2 linked regions of the Homo sapiens genome follow. The protein of the gene in region 1 interacts with the protein of each later gene in a biochemical or structural test. Each region holds a gene or a part of one and is shown on either strand. Other genes may lie near its edges.

Region 1 (3,656 bases):
TTTAATTTCCTGTGGGTTTCTTTTTTTTTTCTTTTTCACTTTAAAGTTGTGTTCTTTTCATGTGAAGTTAAACTCACATACCTTTTTTTAATCTCCTTGCCAGCCAAATGATAAATGCCAACCCAGAGAATGCAGTAACCATGACTGCCACTGGAATGAAGAGGGGGTTATAATCACCCTCCTTAATCATTGAGAAACTTTTGTCCAATTCTGAAAGAGAAATCAGTAAGGCACATAGCATGAGACCACCAGCATTATTTCCTTAGTCTATCTCATGATATTTGACTTTTTTCCTCCTTACATCTCCCAGTAGTAGCCCATTTGATGCCATTTGACAGATGAGGAAACTGGCATGGGAAGGCCCCTGATGAGTCTACAGCATAGGCAAAGACTGGACCAGCCTTGCTAGTCTAATGCCTACAGAATCTCAATGCCCAGATTTGTGGTTCATAGAGTTCCTGAAAATGCACCTAAAAATGTTGGCAAGAATGGTCATCGTTGTATTTAGCTCCATGGACTTGTTCAATGACTGGAACTCTGAAACACAGAGAAGAGCTAAAAGCCTAATACAACTTCAGGAAAAATAAAAGCCAATGATCTGAACTGGATAATTCACCAGTCAAAGGAAATCATTAATGCTTTTACTTTAAAGCAGTTGTGCAAAAATAAGCACTTGATTTTTACATGCCAAGGACCTGCACTAATTTCTTTCCAATGCAGTAGTTACCACTTCCCTCTACTTCCTTCACGAATAAGTAAAAGGGCATGTTTAGAGATACTCTTGTAAGTGTAAACTAAGTTCATTTGGGAGCCTCTATTTGAAAATACTGGTATAAAAAAAAATCTGTCTCCTGATACTAACATTTGAAGGAATCTACTTTTTTACATATTGGCAGAGGGTCTGATTCTATCCTTAGTTCTTCCCATTACTTTGATGAACCTTTTCAAGGTGATTTGATCCCCACACCCAAATATATGATTGAGAGAAGGCTCAAGTTCCCAGGAGCTCCAGACAGAAGGTACCTGTTGGCTTGATGAAGATGAGGAGGAAATGAACACTAGCTAGGCCTTAAAGGGAAATGTCTCTGATAGGCCTAATACACAGTCCTCTGCTAAAGGCCTCCCTGCCTCTCTCTGCTCATCCACTCTACTCCCTGGCCCTGGGCACGCAGCACACAGAGATCAGCATTTCTGACAGCTTCTGTAGATCCTACCATTTAAAGACTTTTGTCATCCATGCAGATAGTCTCAGGAGCAGACACAGGTAGCTATTCTTTCACATGCTAGCTTAACATGCATTTGCTTTAGCACCTATTGCCAGGCACTGTGTCAGGTGGAGGGTATACAAAGATGAACAAGACATGATTCTTCTCATATACAGATAGATTTTGGAGGCATTAGCTTAGTGATGATTCAGGAGTATCCATTATTTGGGGAAGTAGGTGGTCATTAGTGACCTTTTACAGGCATTTCAATGGGCTAACAGAGATGTTAGATTGTAGTGGAATAGAAGAATGGGTAAAAAGTAAATCAGTGAGTTCAGATTTTAGGAGTTAAGATGGCAAGAGGTGAGAACAAAAAAAGGAAATGATTGTCATTAAAGGAGGAGGAAAGACCAGCCAAAGATTTTACAGTGAGTTAAGCATACAAATTTATTTCTAGGCCACATATTCTTAGCAAAACAACATGTAAATGTTTATGTATGTCTTTCCTCATATCTGCTCATCCATCAGCTCCATCGTTAAGATTTCAGTTTTCCAGGACAAACTTACTCACTTTGACATATTGGACTAGGATTTGACCAGATTCCAGATGATTCACAAATGGTTTTCTTCTTCCCAATTAACTCAGTTCCTTCTGAGCAGATGAAGGTACATGCAGAGGTAAAGCTGAAGCTGGCCAGGGGATGGCTACAGTTCATGATCCCCAAATCTGGTGCTGATAGAGGCTCACACTGAATCACTTCAATGAAAAAGAAAAAAAAAAAAAAGACAAAACAGTATTTCTGAGTAGAGACCCTCCCTTGAGCAAAGGATTTTTAGCCAAAGCTGCCTGACTACATTACTTGTGATATTGCTTCCAGGCTTTATTTTCTTGAGAATGATGGTGGGTGGTGAATGAGAGATGAAGGCAAGGAAGCATTGAAAGCTGTGGGGAGAGGAGTAGCTACTCCAGGCTGCTGCCCTAGCTAAGGTGACCCTCCCCTTCTGCTGGAAGTACCATGCCATATGGCCTCTGCATCAAGGGCTCTTATGGGATATTCTCAGAGAATCTCTGCCGTTTCATCTGTTCTGATATCTACCCAAGCATTTTGAAAAACATCCCAATTCACTGAAGCAAGTCCAACTTCCGTAAATTCCAGTAGGTGGGTTGACAGTTTTATAATTTCAATAAGGGATTTTGATAGCACTTCTAAGAATTAAACTACTTAAACTAATGCATCAGGAGCATACTTGTAGAAAAGTTAACCAAAACTTCGTAAGTTCAGATGACATTGGTTTTCTCCCATATGGAGATAAGGTTGGCAGTTAAAAATGAAAAAAAAAAAAAAACCTACCTTATTTCAAACTTGAAAAGATCAAGAGATTGTGTTTTTGTTTTTCAGTTGTTATTCTCCTAAAAGTTTATGCATGAGGAAAAGTAAAAGTGATTTTAAGAATAAGCCAAATAAAACAACCAAGAAAGACCTCCACTACCCTGGGAAGGAAACTGGTTGGTATTAAGTAGGACACCACATAAAACAGGTGTTATTGAGAGGAGAAGAACCAAAATGTAACTGAGGTTCAACAAGACATTATTTATGCAATGGCAATGAGAAAAATAAAAAACACAGTATAACCATGCTGTATTGCTATAAGTCATGTTACACACTGGGAGATGGCTTCAGGGGTATTTGGTTTTTACTTTTTGTTTGGGAGGTTTTTCAAAAAAATTTAGTTAGAATAAGTCCTTTGAGAAACATCACAGTAGGTTAAACAAAGTTAGGTTAAATTAGGCTCCTAAGTTTGACTTCTCAGCAAACTTCTACTGAATGTTCTGACTGTAAGCCCAGGATTGCATGACAAAACCTCTAGTCTGAAGTTACTCACCTTGACAGGTTGGTTCTGGAGATGACCAGTTTCCAAATGGTCCACAGGTGGTTTCTTCAATCCCAGTTAAGTTTGTTCCTTCAGAGCAGCTGAAGGCACACTGTGAGCTGAAGCTGAAGTTTCCCAAAGGGTGAGTACAGTCCATGGTACCCAGCTCTGGGGCCTCCAAAGGCTCACACTGAATCACTTCAATAGGGAAAGAAACAGTATGGGGAAGAGTTAAGAGGAACTGACGCCTGGATTTGAATCCTAGCCCTGCCACTTGATAACCATGTGCCTTTAAACAAGGTTACTTGAACCCTCCAACTTCAGTTTCTTCATCTATATAAGAGGAATAATGAAATTGTGTTATCTTTATCAAATTGATATGGAAACTAAATGTAATTCAATTAGCATAAGTCAAGGACCTTAGAACAAAGCCTGACTCATCAGAAATTCTAAGTAAACATTAGCTAGTCTTCATATTATTATCTTCAGCATTATCTGTAGTGAGAATCCTTAAAGCCAAATAGGTGTAACTGGGAATGACCAGCTTAGTCGGGAAATAACTATCACATCAGAGCCCCT
Region 2 (2,656 bases), on another chromosome or scaffold:
GCTGGCCAACATGGGGAACCTGTCCACGGATTCAGCAGCTATGGAGATACAGACCACTCAACCAGCAGCCACGGAGGCACAGACCACTCAACCAGTGCCCACGGAGGCACAGACCACTCCACTGGCAGCCACAGAGGCACAGACAACTCGACTGACGGCCACGGAGGCACAGACCACTCCACTGGCAGCCACAGAGGCACAGACCACTCCACCAGCAGCCACGGAAGCACAGACCACTCAACCCACAGGCCTGGAGGCACAGACCACTGCACCAGCAGCCATGGAGGCACAGACCACTGCACCAGCAGCCATGGAAGCACAGACCACTCCACCAGCAGCCATGGAGGCACAGACCACTCAAACCACAGCCATGGAGGCACAGACCACTGCACCAGAAGCCACGGAGGCACAGACCACTCAACCCACAGCCACGGAGGCACAGACCACTCCACTGGCAGCCATGGAGGCCCTGTCCACAGAACCCAGTGCCACAGAGGCCCTGTCCATGGAACCTACTACCAAAAGAGGTCTGTTCATACCCTTTTCTGTGTCCTCTGTTACTCACAAGGGCATTCCCATGGCAGCCAGCAATTTGTCCGTCAACTACCCAGTGGGGGCCCCAGACCACATCTCTGTGAAGCAGTGCCTGCTGGCCATCCTAATCTTGGCGCTGGTGGCCACTATCTTCTTCGTGTGCACTGTGGTGCTGGCGGTCCGCCTCTCCCGCAAGGGCCACATGTACCCCGTGCGTAATTACTCCCCCACCGAGATGGTCTGCATCTCATCCCTGTTGCCTGATGGGGGTGAGGGGCCCTCTGCCACAGCCAATGGGGGCCTGTCCAAGGCCAAGAGCCCGGGCCTGACGCCAGAGCCCAGGGAGGACCGTGAGGGGGATGACCTCACCCTGCACAGCTTCCTCCCTTAGCTCACTCTGCCATCTGTTTTGGCAAGACCCCACCTCCACGGGCTCTCCTGGGCCACCCCTGAGTGCCCAGACCCCATTCCACAGCTCTGGGCTTCCTCGGAGACCCCTGGGGATGGGGATCTTCAGGGAAGGAACTCTGGCCACCCAAACAGGACAAGAGCAGCCTGGGGCCAAGCAGACGGGCAAGTGGAGCCACCTCTTTCCTCCCTCCGCGGATGAAGCCCAGCCACATTTCAGCCGAGGTCCAAGGCAGGAGGCCATTTACTTGAGACAGATTCTCTCCTTTTTCCTGTCCCCCATCTTCTCTGGGTCCCTCTAACATCTCCCATGGCTCTCCCCGCTTCTCCTGGTCACTGGAGTCTCCTCCCCATGTACCCAAGGAAGATGGAGCTCCCCCATCCCACACGCACTGCACTGCCATTGTCTTTTGGTTGCCATGGTCACCAAACAGGAAGTGGACATTCTAAGGGAGGAGTACTGAAGAGTGACGGACTTCTGAGGCTGTTTCCTGCTGCTCCTCTGACTTGGGGCAGCTTGGGTCTTCTTGGGCACCTCTCTGGGAAAACCCAGGGTGAGGTTCAGCCTGTGAGGGCTGGGATGGGTTTCGTGGGCCCAAGGGCAGACCTTTCTTTGGGACTGTGTGGACCAAGGAGCTTCCATCTAGTGACAAGTGACCCCCAGCTATCGCCTCTTGCCTTCCCCTGTGGCCACTTTCCAGGGTGGACTCTGTCTTGTTCACTGCAGTATCCCAACTGCAGGTCCAGTGCAGGCAATAAATATGTGATGGACAAACGATAGCGGAATCCTTCAAGGTTTCAAGGCTGTCTCCTTCAGGCAGCCTTCCCGGAATTCTCCATCCCTCAGTGCAGGATGGGGGCTGGTCCTCAGCTGTCTGCCCTCAGCCCCTGGCCCCCCAGGAAGCCTCTTTCATGGGCTGTTAGGTTGACTTCAGTTTTGCCTCTTGGACAACAGGGGGTCTTGTACATCCTTGGGTGACCAGGAAAAGTTCAGGCTATGGGGGGCCAAAGGGAGGGCTGCCCCTTCCCCACCAGTGACCACTTTATTCCACTTCCTCCATTACCCAGTTTTGGCCCACAGAGTTTGGTCCCCCCCAAACCTCGGACCAATATCCCTCTAAACATCAATCTATCCTCCTGTTAAAGAAAAAAAAAAATGGGACTGGGAGCAGTGGCTCATGCCTGTAATCCCAGCACTTTGGGAGGCCGAGGCAGGTACATCACCTGAGGTCAGGAGTTCAAGACTAGCCTGGCCAACATAGTGAAACCCTGTCTCTACTAAAAATACAAAGATTAGTCAGGTGTGGTGGCACATGCCTGTAGTCCCAGCTACTGGGGAGGCTGAGGCAGGAGAATTGCTTGAACCCGGGAAGCGGAGGGAGGTTGCAGTGAGCTGAGATCACGCTACTGCACTCCAGCCTGGGTGACAGAGTAAGACTCCGTCTCAAAAAAAAAAAAAAAGATTCAATGACCCTTGTTAAAGCATGGTAAGGAAGACTTTGTTCAAGGGGAGTGGGACTCTCTCAATCACTGCAGGGACTGCAGCTATGGGATTTTGCAGTGGGGGCATTTGGGCTCAACTATGAGTACAGCAGGGGCAAGTGGGAGCTGATAGCCAGGGAACAGGGTTGGATATCTGCAGCTGGAAAATTACCAAGAGGAAACATCAGGGGAAGGGGAATTCTGGCTAAACTGACTGCTGGGGATGGGTTCT

Evidence for each region. The genes of interacting proteins can lie anywhere in the genome.
Region 2: the proteins of SELL (region 1) and SELPLG form a complex in vitro, tested with the Homo sapiens proteins (one large-scale study listed by IntAct).

What each region holds. Positions count from the first base shown.
Region 1 is NC_000001.11:169,701,479-169,705,134, forward strand, and holds part of SELL (L-selectin precursor), read right to left. Parts: intron 3,276-3,656; coding exon 3,090-3,275; intron 1,963-3,089; coding exon 1,777-1,962; intron 211-1,776; coding exon 82-210; intron 1-81. UniProt on the Homo sapiens protein: Calcium-dependent lectin that mediates cell adhesion by binding to glycoproteins on neighboring cells. Mediates the adherence of lymphocytes to endothelial cells of high endothelial venules in peripheral lymph nodes.
Region 2 is NC_000012.12:108,621,338-108,623,993, reverse strand, and holds the end of SELPLG (P-selectin glycoprotein ligand 1 isoform 2 precursor), read left to right. Parts: coding exon 1-925; 3' UTR 926-2,099; downstream 2,100-2,656. UniProt on the Homo sapiens protein: A SLe(x)-type proteoglycan, which through high affinity, calcium-dependent interactions with E-, P- and L-selectins, mediates rapid rolling of leukocytes over vascular surfaces during the initial steps in inflammation.